2 separate regions of the Homo sapiens genome follow, and region 1 is linked to region 2. The links come from fine-mapping of genetic effects on gene expression. Tissue or cell type: cerebral cortex. Region 2 holds a variant in brackets; the other region holds the start of a gene. All regions are shown on one strand. Distances are from middle to middle.

What was found. PIP is the estimated chance that this variant, and not a neighbour inherited with it, causes the effect.
Region 1: GNPAT starts here. The variant in region 2 is fine-mapped to the expression of GNPAT in cerebral cortex (GTEx, PIP above 0.99).

Annotation. Positions count from the first base shown.
Region 1 is chr1:231,236,390-231,244,494 of GRCh38, forward strand. GNPAT (glyceronephosphate O-acyltransferase) reads left to right here and starts at 4,823. Exons shown (of 16, transcript NM_014236.4): 1 at 4,823-5,067. The coding sequence starts at 4,990. FSAF1 (40S small subunit processome assembly factor 1) reads right to left here and starts at 4,786. Exons shown (of 7, transcript NM_152379.4): 1 at 4,635-4,786; 2 at 2,468-2,799. The coding sequence starts at 4,752. RefSeq lists enhancers at 4,516-4,855, 4,836-5,725.
Region 2 is chr1:231,952,120-231,960,224 of GRCh38, forward strand. It overlaps DISC1 (DISC1 scaffold protein), which reads left to right. Exons shown (of 13, transcript NM_018662.3): 10 at 6,709-6,769. TSNAX-DISC1 (TSNAX-DISC1 readthrough (NMD candidate)) reads left to right here. Exons shown (of 16, transcript NR_028393.1): 13 at 6,709-6,769. Among named protein-coding and RNA genes, the nearest start is that of DISC1-IT1, 30 kb to the left of the region's middle. The variant C/T (reference allele first, on the strand shown) is at 3,067.

The DNA of each region.
Region 1 (8,105 bases), 720 kb before region 2:
AAAGGGCAGAGAGCAGCAATGACAAATGAAAATTTTCATTAAGGTCAGGAAGTTCAAAACGTAGAGTGAGCTGAGGCTCCTGAGAAGAGCCAACTAGAATGCATCAGGGCTCGCTTGGAACGGGAAGCAAAAGACAATTTGACAGACTGCCACAGATGTTCTATTATTAAGCAACAGGGAAATGCAGACTCATTCAATCCCAACTCTTCTGTCTTTTCTATTAAAAAGAAAACTTTCCATTCCAGAAAAAAGAACATGAGGGAATATAAGAGGAAACTGAAGTCTGAGACATTTGAAGAAACAAGAAAGGGTGCCTAAATGCTTTATGTTAGTTGAAGTCTTCAAATGCTGAATTATATTGCAAAGCAGTGCTCACCAACATTTTTCATATCATGACACATACAGAAAATACCAGTATTTGTAGGGTACACTGGGGTACTGGGAGATGGCCAGCTTCGGGGCTCTGGTTGCCCCAAACACCAAGGGAATCCATTTCTTGACCCTCCCGTAACAGTTCCCAGAGCCTTATATTTGGAACATAAGAGTTAAGAAGCTTATCTAGAATCCTAAAATAAAGGTAGACATGGTTACAGATTCACTAATAATCTTTTTTTTTTTTTTTGGAGAAAGGGTCTCGCTCTGTCACCCCCGCTGGAGTGCAGTGACACAATCACAGCCCACTGCAGTCTCGACTTCCTGAAGTCAAGCAATCCTCTGGCCTTGGCATCCCAAAGTGCTCGGATTACTGGCGTGAGCCACCACGCTCAGCCTGCAGAATGCGCTAACGATCTTTGAGGAAGAGATGCCAGCAAGCTTGATATGAAATGCTACCTGAATTTTAGAAAAGATTATACAGATGGTTTTTAAAACCATAAAGATGTGGCAAACACTGGACACTAACATACATTTATACATTCATAAAGAACAATGCAAGCCAAACCATCTTCGTAGTGGGTAGAATTGTGGCCTCTAAAAACATATGGCCATGTCCTACTCCTCTTCAGAACCTGTGAATGTGATCTTACTTGGAGAGGGATCTTTATAATTAAACATCTCAAAAGGAGATCATCCCAGATTCAGGGTGGGCCTAAAGCAAAGAGGAAGGCAGAGGGAAACATGAGACTCAGGGACACAGGGATGAAAACCACATTAAGACGGAGGCAGAGATTATAGTTATGCAACCACAAGCCAAGGAAACTGTTAGAGCTACCTTCTGGTCAGAGGCAAAGGATTCTCCCCCAAAGCCCTCAGAGGGAGCATGGCCCTGCCAACACTTTGATTTTGGACTTCTGGACTACGGAACTGTAAGAGAATACATTTCTGTTGGTTTAAGTCACCATGTTTGTGGTAATTTGTTATAGCAGGCTTAGAAACTAATACGTTCAATCCTCACTTCTTTGTTGATAGACAAAGGTTTGCAGGACGTGGGGGATGTTACAGAAATGGAATAGCAATGAATTTGTCAAAGCCATTATGATATTCTTGTGAATAGATAAATTAAAAACATTTGGGGCCAGGCGCAGTGGCTCACGCCTGTAGTCCCAGCATTTGGGGAAGCCAAGGCGGGCAGATCACGAGGTCGGGAGATCAAGACCATCCTGGCTAACATGGTGAAACCCTGACTCTACTAAAAATACAAAAAACTAGCCAGGCGTGGTGGCAGGCACCTGTAGTCCCAGTTACTTGGGAGGCTGAGGCAGAAGAATGGCATGAACCTGGGAGGTGGAGCTTGCAATGAGCTAAGATCGTGCCACTGCACTCCAGCCTGGGCAACAGAACGAGACTCCGTCTCAAAAAAAAAAAAAATTAAAAACATTTGGAGGAGCAACCACACCTCCCTTGGGGACTGAATTTTAGGTGAGATTTACAAGCTCACTCTGAAAAAGATTACTGCTCAGAAAAATCAAATTGCTTTTCCACCAGCATTGCTTTTCCTCGAGAGCAAGAATTTCTATACATTTGGTTCACTGCTATATCCCAGTGCCTACAACTGTGGCTAGCACATAACAGGAATGCCAGAAAGAGTTGCTGTAAGAGTTAACTCAGCAGGCCTGTGTTTACCAAACCCTGCACATTCCCAAGAAAGTCCTATTTTCATGACTGGCAGTTGGCTGCCTCCTGAGAATTGAGCAATTAGAATATTCTGCCTGATCAGAGTGTTTTTGCATACCTGAGGTCTTGAGCCACTGCTGTACCAAGTTTTCCCAGACAGTTTATACTAGCAATGTGATTGATGGTGAATACCTGCTTTTCACTGGAGGTCTAGAACTTGAATAACTAAGGTCAGTCTGTAGGCCTACATGACTGATAAGGGCTATATGCTGAGTCTTGGGTCCTGTGAGTCCTTTTGGCAAATCTGCAGGCCTGAGGATAGTCAGGCATTCCTGCCACAGTCTAAAGAGCTATTCACCTAATACTACAATACCAGGGGGTTCACCACGTATATATAAGCTAACCAACTCATTACCTTTGTGTTCTTGTTATGATCTGGCGTCAATTTTCTTTTTTTATTGCTGTGAAATTCTACCACTTCTACTTGTTCCCTATTGTTCTTTAGGGAAGAGGGAGGAACTGCAGCAGCAAGGATCTCTGGTCCTGTGGGGGTCCCAGAAGGAGCACAATGCCGCTCTTCTCTAAGTTCCTTGAAGAAGCTCGAAGCGCTCTTCCTCTGGCCTCTTATGAGAGAACCAGGTAGGGGAGATGGCTCTGCTGCCAAGGCCGCTGAAGCCATCACATCTCTCTTCTTGTTTTCCCTTTTCTTTATGATCTTCTTCTGTTCTGTTTCACCTTCTGTACCTCCTGTTTGTTCAAACACAAGAAGGAAAATAAATATTTTCAGTCTTAGCTATCATCAGTATCAAATCCTACGAATGTATTTGTACATATTCCAGGGCTATATGCACCTAGAAGCACACACAAAGAAATAAACTATTTGTTTTCTTTCAAATAAGTGTATTTGCAAAATGCAGAGAATCCAAAATGTAGTCATCTTTTCCTAGGTAACTATGTCTTTGACCCTTATTAGCACAATCACTTTAGTCTCCACTTTGGTTCCTACTCAAAGTGTCATCACAGCAATAGTCCCCAGGGCTGGTAATCCCAATTGGCTTTATACTAAAAATATCAGGCACTGCAGCCACTGTTTCTTTTTAACACTTTCTGGGTTACAGGAACATGGAATAGTCTTCCTATTTTCTTTCACAGTTAGGAATTAAGATGAACCTAAGACAACTGGCTCAATTTGAATGCCTTTGTTTTCTATTAATTCCTCTTTCTATATTTCACTTGTTGAAGCTCTGACCAGTCACCTGAAAGTTCTAACCAGAATCCTAGGCATCCTTACTCACATGTATTACAAATACCACAGAGCTCTCTAAATTACCAGCTGCTGATTTATGCTTGCTACTATTTGCTTAATCTTTTATACAATAAACATTTAAGAGCCAACTAAACTTTGGCATTAAGGATATAAAAATGAATAGACACATTCAATGCCTTCAGAGCTCCTACCATGATTTCCAGCCTGTGTTGACATGAACTATATTATTTTGCAGAATAGTCTTTTCCTCTAGATTTTAAACTTCTCAAGGTCAGAGACTAAGTCTTCTCTGTCCTCCAATATGTCCAAGGGCACAGAAATGCTAGTTAATACAAGCATGGGGTCTGGGGCTAGAATCAGAACCCAGGCTCTGCAAAAATTACCAGTCAGACAACCTGCATCAGGTTTCATGAACTTCTAGTACTTGTTTCTACATCTGCAATCATGGATTTATGACAGTGTCTATTTCATGAAGTTGAAAATTAAATGAGCAAATACACGAAAAGCATGTGCTATATGGCAAGTTCTCAACAGTTTTAACTATTATTCCTACTGTTTAGGTGAACTTAGAATTTTGAGCAGTCATTCCAAAATAAAAATAGCTTTTAAAATATCACGCTGTAAATTTAAGAAATGTGTGTTGTCCTGAAATCTAATGATTTTCTTTGGTGCATGTGCAAAGGGTGTCACCTTCTCCCGGGAAAGCTCTTCAGAGTATGAGGCACTGTCTTCCTACTGACATGCCATGCGACTTTAATAGGCTCTTTTATTTTCCTTTTCCCCCATCAAGACAAAGAACGGAGAGTAAAAGATCAGCGCACTTGTTTAAAAAAAAAAAAGTCGTGAAAAGGACAACTCGCCAAGGACTATGATGTCTCTGGAGAGGGACACACAAGGATGAAGCTGGTGTATTATCCAACAGGCCCGAGGCCCCAGAGCGAAATGACACCATCGCACCAGGGTCAGGCAGGTCTTGGGGGTGGCATGGGGAAAGGGGACTTCCCAGGGCTCAAGAAAACGTGGAAAAGCGGGCTACTTTTAAATCGGAAAGCCTTGGTGCTTCCTACAAGCAAGTAGGATGGTCCCCACACTTGGGGACGAGTTGGAAGGTTTGATGAATAACTCAGCAGAGCCCGGTCGAGGGGTGACTTCCGATGGAGAAATGTGTTCGCTACTGGAACCAGGTGGGACGAAGGGTGCTTGACATGCAAGAACCTTTAGCCTCAAAGCAGAGGCCAACCCAGGACGGGCAACACAGGAGACCCACGTTCCTCAAATCTGTTCTCCACGTGGGCTCCTGGGACCCCGCACTCACCAAAGTCGTAAAGGTTCTGGAGCAGAGCGTCAAGAAGTGTCGGAGAACTGGGAGGCGTGGAGGACCCCGGCCCTTGCTCCTGCGACATTGTGGGGTCAGCCGAGGAATCAACCCTCATTCTGCCGCGCTGCACCCCCGCTTCCGGGTTCCGCGACTGCGCGCATGCGCTGCAGGGCCCTGCGCGGCTTCCGTCCTGGCTGAGATGGCGGCGCCCGGGATCCTGTGTAGCGGCTGCAGAGGGTGCCGCCGCCCTAGGCGAAGTAGGGCCGTCCTGAGCGAAAGAACCGCCCCCAGCAGGAGCACCACCACGGCTTAGCAAAGAATCCCAGACCCCGCCCGGGAAGGCAGCCGCACCATGGAGTCTTCCAGTTCATCTAACTCTTATTTCTCCGTTGGCCCAACCAGTCCCAGCGCTGTCGTGCTCCTCTACTCGGTAGGCGCCCAGGGAAAAGAGGCCCAGAGCGGAGCCGCGCGAAATAGTACCCCTTTCTCCCAGTCCCTATTCCTCCGGCCCACCACCCTTGCCCAAAAGAGCTGGCCCCTAGGCTCCCGAGGAGGGGTTAGTTGGTTGGATTGGTTTCCAGGACAACAGTGTATCGCTGTGTGTCTGTGTGTGCATGCTTTTGGAAGTTTCTACGGATTATGGTTCCTTTGGTTCCTTTCCACTTTTTCCTTCTCTTTCTTTCTATCAGGCCCTGGGGCCTTCAGAAAGCTCCTGGACACGAGAATGAGGAATGAGAATTGGAGTCTCCCCATCTCTAGCGAGGGCATGTCGAGCTACCTTTTGGGCAAACCTGAGAAACTTGCGGGTTTGACCCGCCCTGAGATAGCCTGTGGCTCCGCACCCCGCCCTATGCTGCTGTTATATTCCTGGGAGTAGAGCACTTGGCTTGTATGTGGGAATAGAGTTTTAAACACTTCAGGAAAATTTAGAACTTCTAGACATTTTTATTGCCTGTTCTTGTCTTCCAGTCATTATTGTACCTTTTCCACAAATCATTTTGGAGGACAGCCAGCGCCACCCAGCTTCTCTCCCGCTTGTCTTTTTTTCCTCCAACCCCCTCTTCCTCTCTTGGTTTTAACGGGTCTTTTTGGCTGGCAGATGTTGGTCACCCACGATTTTCATGAAGAAATTATGAGATGGGAGCTTTATAGCCTTCAGGATTGCACAGACCTGGGGCAACTGGTTTGGTTTTTGTTTGTTTCTTGTTGTTTTTAACCACTAAATTAGTTTTTAGCTACTTTAGGAGAAAATGAAAGAATTCATTTTAAAAGCATATTAGCATATCCTGGTGATTACTGTCCAATTTTGGCTTAAATGTAGTGTTCATTTGTGCAGAAAGGTCAAAACAGGGATAACACAGCAGAGCAAGATAAACACCCCAGTTTTGAAAGAGAATATATGGGTTCCTTCAAATTGAGACACCAATATTCTTTGGAACATGGAGAAACTTCTGTTCCCTCTCTATCAAGACCTTTCGGTTTCTGATTGCTAACTGCCTATAAGCCTTATTATTTAGATATATCTCTTCATTGATCTTATCTTCCCCACAGTTCTGTGGTGGATATCAACTTTGTTTTCTGACTCTGCTACTCCAGAGCAGGCACGAAGGGAAGAGGGTTGCTGTGCAGATCCAGCTTTTAACATGTAGCTTTTTAAGCTCCCAACTGGTTTGTGAATTGGTTGGAATTTTCCTTTTGTACATTAAAGGAAGGAGTTGGTTTTGTTTGTTTGTTTGTTTGTTTTACTTCCCCTTTACCAACGGTTCTTTAATAAGACTTGAGTCCACTTTTTCATGTGAAAAACTATGGCAGTTGTATCTGAGCATTCTGTAGTTCTGATGCTGGACAGCAACCCACTCTTTACTGGTAGTTCTCACTACTGTTTTGTGACTGGATAACCTTTACTTCCACGGTAACCTTACTTTTTCTTAGTACTTCAGGCTGTTTTTATTTCCCCAGCTACGCTGTTATTGTGTAATATTCTGATCTAAAAGTAGCACTTTAGAAGCGTAGAAGATACTGCTGATTGCAGCAAACATTAGGAATATATACAGTATCCTACTCATTATTCTCAGTTTCCAAGATATAGAAGTTACAGATGCAGGCTCTGCCTTTAAGGGCACAAAAAGTCATAAAAGTAAACAAACAATCACAGTTAAGTATGGTAAGGGCAATGATTGAAGCATGCACAGCGTGTTGTGGGAGAGACAAGAAGGGGCACCTGACCAGTTTGGGAACTTGGAGAAGGTTTCTAAGAAAAGGTGATATCTAAGCTGATCTTCCTTTTTTGTTTTTGTTTTTGTTTTTGTTTTGTTTTGGAGACAGCCTTGCTCTGTTGCCAGGCTGGAGAACAGTGGCTCGATCTTGGTTCACTGCAACCTCCATCTCCGGGGCTCAAGCGATTCTCCTGCCTCAGCCTCCCGAGTAGCTGGGATTTTAGGCACACGCCACCCCGCCCTGCTAATGTTTGTATTTTTAGTAAAGACAAGGTCTCACCGTGTTGGCCAGGCCGGTCTTGAACTCCTGACCTCAAGTGATCTACTCACCTCCCAAAGTGCTGGAATTACAGGCATGAGCCACTGTGCCTGGCATGAGCTGAGTTTTTGAGCTGTGAATGGCAGATGAGGGAGAGGAAAACTGTCCTAGATGTTGATGTAAAAAAAACTACTCCCTTGCATATTTGGGGTTAGAATTAGTTAGATTTGGGTGGAAGAAAGGAGACATGAGAAACAAAGTAAGGAAGTAGGCAGATATTTCCTAAAGAAATTTTATGTGTCGTGTTTACATATCCTTAGGGATAAAATCTTAACTTTATGGGAGATTTTAATCTTACATCTATGTGTGTGTGTGTGTATACACATATATATATAAATATATGTGTGTATATGTATTTTTTTTTTGACATGGTGTCTCACTCTGTCACCCAGGCTGGAGTGTAATGGCACAATCTTGGCTCACTGCAACCTCCACCTCCAGGGTTCAAGAGATTCTCCTGTCTCAGCATCCCAAGTAGCTGGGATTACAGTTGCCTGCCACCACACCCGGCTAATTTTTGTATTTTTAGTAGAGTCGGGGTTTCACCATGTCGGCCAGGCTGGTGTCGAACTCCCGGTCTCAAGTGATCCACCTGCCTTGGCCTTCCAAAGTACATTTATATTTTTGAAAGTCTGAGAAGACTATAGGTTTCTGGTGTGATTATCTGTATAGGTAACCTGTTTTGCCTAAGTAGAGACTGTAGGAAGAGAATCAGGTTGGGTAGGGAATCTGATGCATAAAAGTGGAGATCAGTTAGAATGCTATTGCAGTAATCCAGAGAAGTAATGAAGCAGTAACAGTGAGCCCAGGAAGAAGGGAAATTGATGAATTTATGTGATATTTAGGACAGTAAATCATCATCCTTTGGAACCATTTGAATGTGGTGGCTAAGGAAAATAGCATAGTCTGAAGTTCACTGTTGGGTTTCTATGA
Region 2 (8,105 bases):
AAAAGAAAGAAAAAGAAAAAACATTAGATGAATGTATGAATGACAGTCAGGTATAACTCCAAAGAGAAACCCTTTCCCTGTTACCACTTATTAAATCAGTAGGACTCATATCTGTTAATTTTCCTTCTCTCTGTAAACATCTTATCAACATCAGAGAAAAAGAGACAGAGAATTAACAACAACATACTGAACGATGCCCTGACAATGAGAAATGAATCCCTTGCTAGTTTGGTAATGATGCATTTATTTGGCTCTGGATCTAGAGAATTTATATTGAGTAGTCAAAAGCCTGGGAAGGACTGAACTCTGTTGAACTCAGAAATCCTCTCTTGAGAGTTCTAGCTAAACTAGAACTACCACAGATAGGTGATAGCAGAATGCTATATTTGAAATGCTGCAAATAAATAAATTTATACATGCAAATCAAAATCTTTTAGTAAAATCACACAATTAACCTCTCACTGGGGAGAAAGAGCCAATGTAGATATATGCTTTAGAAAGTTGTTAATCATTTTCTCATTGCAACCTACTTTGAAATCACCTTGGCCTATTGTCTCTCATATATATATGTTTATATATATATATATATATATATGTATATATATATATAAACTTATTTTACACAATGTAGATTTATTTTATGCTGATATACTAGTAATGTTCTTCCCTACATTTTACAAACAATGAGATTTTCATTTATTGATGGCTGGTCTTTGCAATGGTCAGTACTCTTTGTAACTCTGACTTTTTACAGCACAGCCTTTGGCCTCCCCTGAATTTAGTGTCTTTGAACACCTGCTTCATTTTGTTGGTGCTGAGATTTCACATCTCATGTGCACTAACTGCTGTCATGTTATATGAAGTTGAAGTCATGTGTTTTGTAACAATGAGCTCTGGAACTATCCCTTACTGGCAGTGTGACTTTGAACCTTACTGCTGCTCCATTTAACCAACTGTAAAATGGTGATAATGGTAGAGCTGCTTCACTGATACTATTATTTAGTTCATGTTTAGAATAAGGTGTTTAAAACAGGTCTTGCAAAAGAAAGTGCTCAGTAAAATGGTAGCTAAATTGATATCACGCGTGTCCCCACAGTGGGTCTCCAATGTGACAGTCAATATCATTTGCGTATGAGCAGACAAAACTCTCTAGGTTTTAGGGGTTCATGGTTGATATTTCCATTTTGCCCTTCAGTGTGAAATTTCACTCACGTAGGACTTCATGGAAAGAATCTACCATCTTTCAAGGACTTACACAATCTTATGCCATCCTACCTGCCAAGACATTCCAGCTGCAAGTCCATTTTCCTGTATTGCTGACTTTCCTGGGTCTTTTCAGGATTATGTTACCTCTTCATCCTCATGCATGATTTAATTATCCGAACAAAGGTTCTTTCATTCACTCGAAGACAGCATAATACCTTAGATATTTGAAAATTTCTCAGAGTTCTAAAATTTCTCCTTTGTCTTTCACATCTTCCTTCTGAAAGATTTTACTAAGTGGGAGTTAATTTTATCTAAATTGATTCTTGAATATTGATCTTTGAAATCTGATGACTTATTTTCATAAATGTAGGCCAGGTCTCACTTGGTACTTAATGTTAATTTAGAAAATTCCAATAACGTGGCTAATGTTTGACAAACTTTGCCATTAATGCTAAACTGGGGAGGTCCCTTTGGCTTCCATTTTCAAAGGTGAGATCGTATCGTACTGATCCCGTCTGAGGATGCCTTCCTTATTAATTGAGGGTGGTGGGGCTGGAGTTTCTTCAAATCACTGGTCCATTCAATCTGATAGCAAGTCTGCCTGGGTGTTACTCATTTCCCATGCTATTTTCATGTCAAATACTGCTGTCCCCTTATGCAAGGGATACAATTCATTGAAACCTCGTTGGACTTCCTCCCACTTAACATTCTCCTACCTTCCGTGTTGACATTCTTCTACCTTCCAACTTCCGTGTTTACACTGAAAAAGCTGTTGCTGGGTAGCTTGGTTATTTTTTTTCCCATCAGACTCATAGGGATATTTTTGGATTATTGGTTATGATGAATATTTATGGAAAATGTTGCTGTGCACTCCAGTGAGAAATCAGTGTTAAAGAGGCTGGTCCCACAGCTATCTCTGTGTCCCTGGAAGCCGTGTCCTTTTTCTATTTAATTAGTGCCAAGTATATGGTCTTGCATGAAGGAGGACCCAGATTGAACTCCTGTAGCATGATGTGTGTTTCATGCACTCTACTGTTTTCACTGATTTATGGCATTTAATTATCAATCTGTTAATCCAAGTTTTTGTTTAATTGGATTCATCAAACTAATTGTATGAATTCCACTCTGTTATCATGGCCTGAACCTGAATATCAGATTCCCTTAATAAACAGAAACAGTGAATGTGTTCCTGCTTCTTCCTGATCAGGAAGGGGGTCTGCAGTCCTCTGGTCTTGTTTGTTTCGTAGCATTTCATTTTGTATTCAGCATTTCTTTGAGCGCCCTCTTTGCTTCTTGGAACCTTGCCTTACTACCATTGCCATTCTCATAGGTCCCTGCTCTACTGGACCTAAAATGGTAGGGAAGAAAGGAAGAGGAGGGGAGTAAGAAGAGAGGAAAAGGTGAGCTCTATTCTCCGTCAGCGTGTCTGTGGCTGTATTGATTCGGAAGTTTAAAATCTAAACTCCCTGTCTACAGTCTTGGCCTGTCTTGAAGGTTGTGAGTCAACTTAGTGAATACATGCAAGGTACTTTTAGGCTGTCTGGCTGGGAGATAAGTTGGGTCCAAAGAAAGTAATAGTTCAACATAGCATTCTCCTTAGATGGCAGCCTCCAGGCAAGAAGAAAAGCCCATGGCTTTGCCTGGAAGTTCTTGTGCAGGTCCAGCGTGTCACCAACTGGTGCTTCAGACACTGAGATGAGGCAAATACTTAGCATTCAGTTTCTTAACAAAGTGATTAACTTGATAGACATCTAGATTCTTTTTAAACATAAGAATATGGCTTTCTTTTCTTCAGGTGGTGTGTCCATTTTTGTCCATCGGATAGAAGGTGCTATCACAATATAAATGGCGCGTTGCGTA[C/T]GATCAGCAAGGGCTTCTTAAGTTACTCCCACTTCCTTAGTGATACTGTCCAGTCTCATTGCTTCAAACGCCAATCCCAAATGTCTCTGTTCCAGAACTTTCCCAAACTCCAGACTCAGATATCCAACCTCACACTTGACATCTCCACTGAATTTCTAAAAACTTCTGAAATTTAACAAATCCAAAGCCAAATTCTTGTCTCCCCAAACCCATTTCACTTCTCATTCTTCCCATCTCAGTTGATGGCAATTTCTGTTTTTTTTCTGGTGGCTTAGGGTAAAAATCTGTAGTCATTCTTGACTTTTTTTTTTTTTTTTTTGGAAACAGAGTTTTGCTTTTTGTTGCCCAGGCTGGAGTGCAGTGGCACGATCTCGGCTCACTGCAACCTCCGCCTCCCACGTTCAAGGGATTCTTCTGTCTCAGCCTCCCAACTAGGTGGGATTACAGGCACCCACCACCACGCCCAGCCAATTTTTCTATTTTTAGTAGAGACGGGGTTTCACCATGTTGGCCAGGCTGGTCTTGAACTCCAGACCTCAGGTGATCCGCCCACCTCAGCCTCCCAAAGTGCTGGGATTACAGGTGTGAGCTACCGCACCCAGCCAACTTTTCTTTTTCTTACACCTGGCATTTGACCCACCAGGAAAGCTATTGTCTCTACCTTTAAAATATATCTAAAATCTGCCCACTTATCACTAACTCCTGCTAATGCACTAGTTTAAGTCCCTATTGGGACATAGAATATGATACTACAAAGTACAGCACCTTGGAAACTGAGAAAACAGCAGAAGCAGAAAGGGTACTCTGACCATCTGCTGTCTTTCTGTGTGAGCTGATCTTAAAGGACTCTCTTGCTTACCTTCCCTGAAAGGTGAGCATAAGACCCTTATGTGACAGTTGCCCTGCCCCCCAATGTGGAGGGAAGGAATGCTACACAGAGGCCAAGGAGATTCTGAACAAACAGCCATGCTGAGCTCCAGTTTATCACCATTAGATCATGTTTTTGTCCAATCACGTTTCTACACAGCTGTCCATTTTTCATATGCTTCATTGAACCTAAGCACAAAAATAGACAGTTTTCTCTGGGTCTTGGGGTCTTCATCTCTGAAGGCTCCTATATCACATAAAACTTTGGTCACATAAATTTGTCATGCCTTTCTCTTGTTAACCTGTCTTTTGTTATAGGGGTGTCAGCCATGACCCTGGTGATGGGTGAGAAAAAATATTCTACTTTTCCTCCTCCACATCTCCATCATCTTTTCCTGGACGATTGCACTAACCTCCTCCATGTCTTTCTGCTTCCACCCCATCCTCCCTTATGGTGTATTCTCAACATAGTTGCTGTAGGTCAATCTCATTTTTTTCTTCTACAGTGTTTTTCCATTCCACTCAGAACACTCAAAATCCTGATAGTGGCTTTCTAGTTACTACAGCTGTGCAACAAAACATCCCCAAACTTAATGACTTAACATCACCATTAATTATGTGCAAAATTCTGTGAGTCAGGAATTCAGACAGGGTATAGTGGGGGGGACTTGTCTCCATCCTGCGATGTCTGGGTCCCTCAGACTCAGAGGCACTAACCACCTGAAAGCTCATTCACTCAGGTATCTGGAGGTTGGTGCTGGATGTATTCTAAGACCATCACCCAGGTTTTCAGCTTAAACACCTACACAGGGCCTCTCCATGTGGCTTGGGCTTCCTCACAAAATGGTGGCTGGGTTCCCAGGACAGAGAGCCACGCAGAAACTGGACTCTAGCCTCAGAAGAGTTATAGAATCCCTTCCATCATACTCAGTGGGTTGGAGCAGTCACAGCCTGTCCACATTCAAGAAGAGGGAAATAGTCTTTACCTCTTGATAGGGAGTGGCAAGGTTCTGGAAGAGTATGTGGTACCAGAAATATTGCTGTGGCCATTTTGAGACTATAGTCTACCACAGTGGCCCGCTTGATTGGACCTGGGTTGTTTCTCTGCCTTCATCTTTTCTCCCTATGGAACATTTGGCTCCGGCCACACTTGCTAGAGCATGCAGATGTGCTTCTGCCCTGGGGCCTTCAGACTGCCTACTCCATTCACAAGATGCCTGTTGATGCCCTCTTCCCTCCCTCCGCAAACTTTTATGGAGTGTCATTTCCCCAGTGATGCCTTCCCTGACCACTCTACAGCCCCTTTTCACTTGCTGTCTTTTTTTTTCCCCTTAAATCCTTATTGTCATTACCACCTTCTAATGTTTTATGGAATTTTTATGTTTATTCTTTAGCATCCCTTGCTGCCAGAATGGAAGCACTACAGAAGCAGGAATCTTTACCTCTTCTGTCCACTGAGCTATCTCACATGCCTAGAACAGTGTGTGGCACATAAATATGTATGGGATGTGAAACAGAGAGGGCGTTTCTGGTTTGGGCATTTGGAATTTGCAATAATTGCTCCAGCTAGCACAACTAAGTTTGTGTGTTAGACCAGCATAAGTCAATAAAAAAAGATACCAACTTAAACAGTTGTTTTCATTGTGTAAATGTCTCTTTTTATCTTTTATGGACTAATGAACCAGAATGTTTAATTGTTTTAATTTCCATCTAAATATTTAGTTTCTTTATGAGGAATGGCAGGGTACTTTTTCCAGTTCCACAGTCCCTCACCTTACACATACACGTTGACTGAAATAGAAGTCTAAGAATCCCCAGACACTCCAGTAGCATGAATCTGGGCAGCCTGGCTTCTGTGTTTCCACATTCTCCAACTTTAGAGTACATGAGCCCTTCAGCATAAATAACCCTTCAGAATAAAGGTTGTAATAAAAACAATGATAAAACCCACAATAACAATAATAATACTAGTAATAGACATGGCAGCACCATTGATAATTCCAGCCACCATTTGCTAGAAACCCCTTGGCTGCAGGTGTTCTTCCAGGCACTTGGTGTGCACGTCTGTTAGTTATTATCTTGAGAGGAAGGCACCTTCATTCCTCGGATGAGCAAAAGGGGAGAACTTGTTCAAAGTATATCAAATCTCTTTTATCCGTAAAGTGCCTCTTTGATCTGCTGAACCATAGCAATCATTCATTCCTTCAACATTTGGTAATTAGGAAGCGCTGAGTTTATCTCAAAGAGTAGCTGATCTCATCACTCATTGGATGTTGAGCAGTTGATTTCTAGTTACTGGCAGAATCCCATGTTTATGTTTATTTCTCAATGAAAGGTTCCACAATCCTCCTCTACCCCTAGTGTGGCTCTTCTGGTTCATCTGTAGGATGGGAATCATTACACTGTCAGGTTCTCTTTCCCTGTATTGGACAACCGAGCCAATGGCTATCAGTTGGGAAAGGTAAGAGATAGAGCACATGTCATCCAGTGATAGACTATCAGTGAGCTGCTTTTTAAAGACTACAGCAAGGCTGGCTCAGCGCTATTGCTCCAGCCTCTGACTTTCTCCTGCAGAGACACTCAGAGCCCCGGAATCCTCCCCAACTCATGACTTCAGGCAGCCACTCCAGTGGATTTGAGTGTTTTCCAAACATAGAATGTTACGATTACTAGTGGCTTGACCTCAATCCTTTGGCTTTGAGCTTTTAGTTGAATGGTTTTTATTCAATTGTGACTGCAGTTGCATTAACTTTGGATTTCCTTTTTTTCCCCCAGAAACAAGTGTGAAGGAAAATACTATGAAGTACATGGAAACACTTAAGAATAAACTGTGCAGGTAAGGATAATAATTTCTGTATTTCAGACTCCGTAGCACATCTAGATTCTTTATTATAACAGAATTTAGTTAAATCGATGAAAAAGGCTGGCCAGTTTCTCTAATAAATTAACAAAGAAAGACACAAAAAAGCCTTTTGAACCCCATCAGTGAAAGAGCAGGTGCCAGCCCTCATCTTGTCTTTTAAAAAGTAAGTAGATTAAGATGTTTAAAAGTGTCTTGGAGAGATCACAGGAGAGTTTTCATGTTCCATAAGAGAAGAATCTTCTTTACTATATTAAATTCAGAATTCATTCCTTAGTCTGTTTTTCCCTTTTTTAAACTTTAGTGTTTGAGGGGGGTCTTAAGGATTTTAAGGCGGTTTATACATGGTTTGGAATAATATAGAAATGCACGTCTTAGGTTCTGTTTTGAATCCTGAATCAAAACCAGCATGAAAATTTCTGGTTGCTTTTTTTAAAACCCAATTAGGAATTCATCTTTGAGAAATGTCAGGGATGCTGCAGCATGACAAGATGTTTCTGGCTTTTGTGGATGTGTGCTTAGGAAAATAAATCCCAGTCATCAGAATCTGTTCCTAATTAAGGCAACAAGTACTAGAGTGGAATATGCGCTTTCTTCCCTGGAAGTCATTTAGTTTTATGGAGACCATTTTGCTATTATTTTGGAATTTGTTAAGTAACTCTTTAGATAGGCTATGCCTTAAGCCTTTGTCTGCTAGGACGCTGTCTTGAGCTAAAATGCTGCTTTTCCATTAAGAGATGTTGAGAGGGCCTGCCTTGCAGAGCCCTACTCTTCAGGGTAAGCAAGGCACTACAGGATTTATTCTCATCCTTGGAAAGCCGTCCTATAACCTCCTGATTGATCTTTCCCTGCTTCCCATGCTCCTAGACTTGGGAAGAATCTATGACACAGGTGGTTAGCAGAGGTGAGCAGAATGAGGAGAGCTTGCACCTGGGTCAGATGCTCCGCTCTGAGTCTGGCCTTCCTCCTCTCGCATGTGTTCGGGGCAGATTTCTGGCACATCCTTCTTGATCTCAACTGCAGCTGCCATTGTTTTAGCCATCAGCACAGCACACACCGTAAGTTACATTAGGTTATCAGGCAGCCAGTGGTAGCCATAAGCACGTGGGTATTGGTAAAGAGACACCCATTTAAATTGCAGCTCTCCCACATAAAAACTGCCTAACCTTAGGTAAGTGCTCACTTTCTGTTCAGTTTGTTTTGTTTTGTTTTTTTAGCTATATAACTGGAGGAAAGGTACCTACCTCCCCAGCTGGTGTGTGAATTTAAATACCATATGTAAAGCATTCATGTGATTGGTAGTAGGCACGCA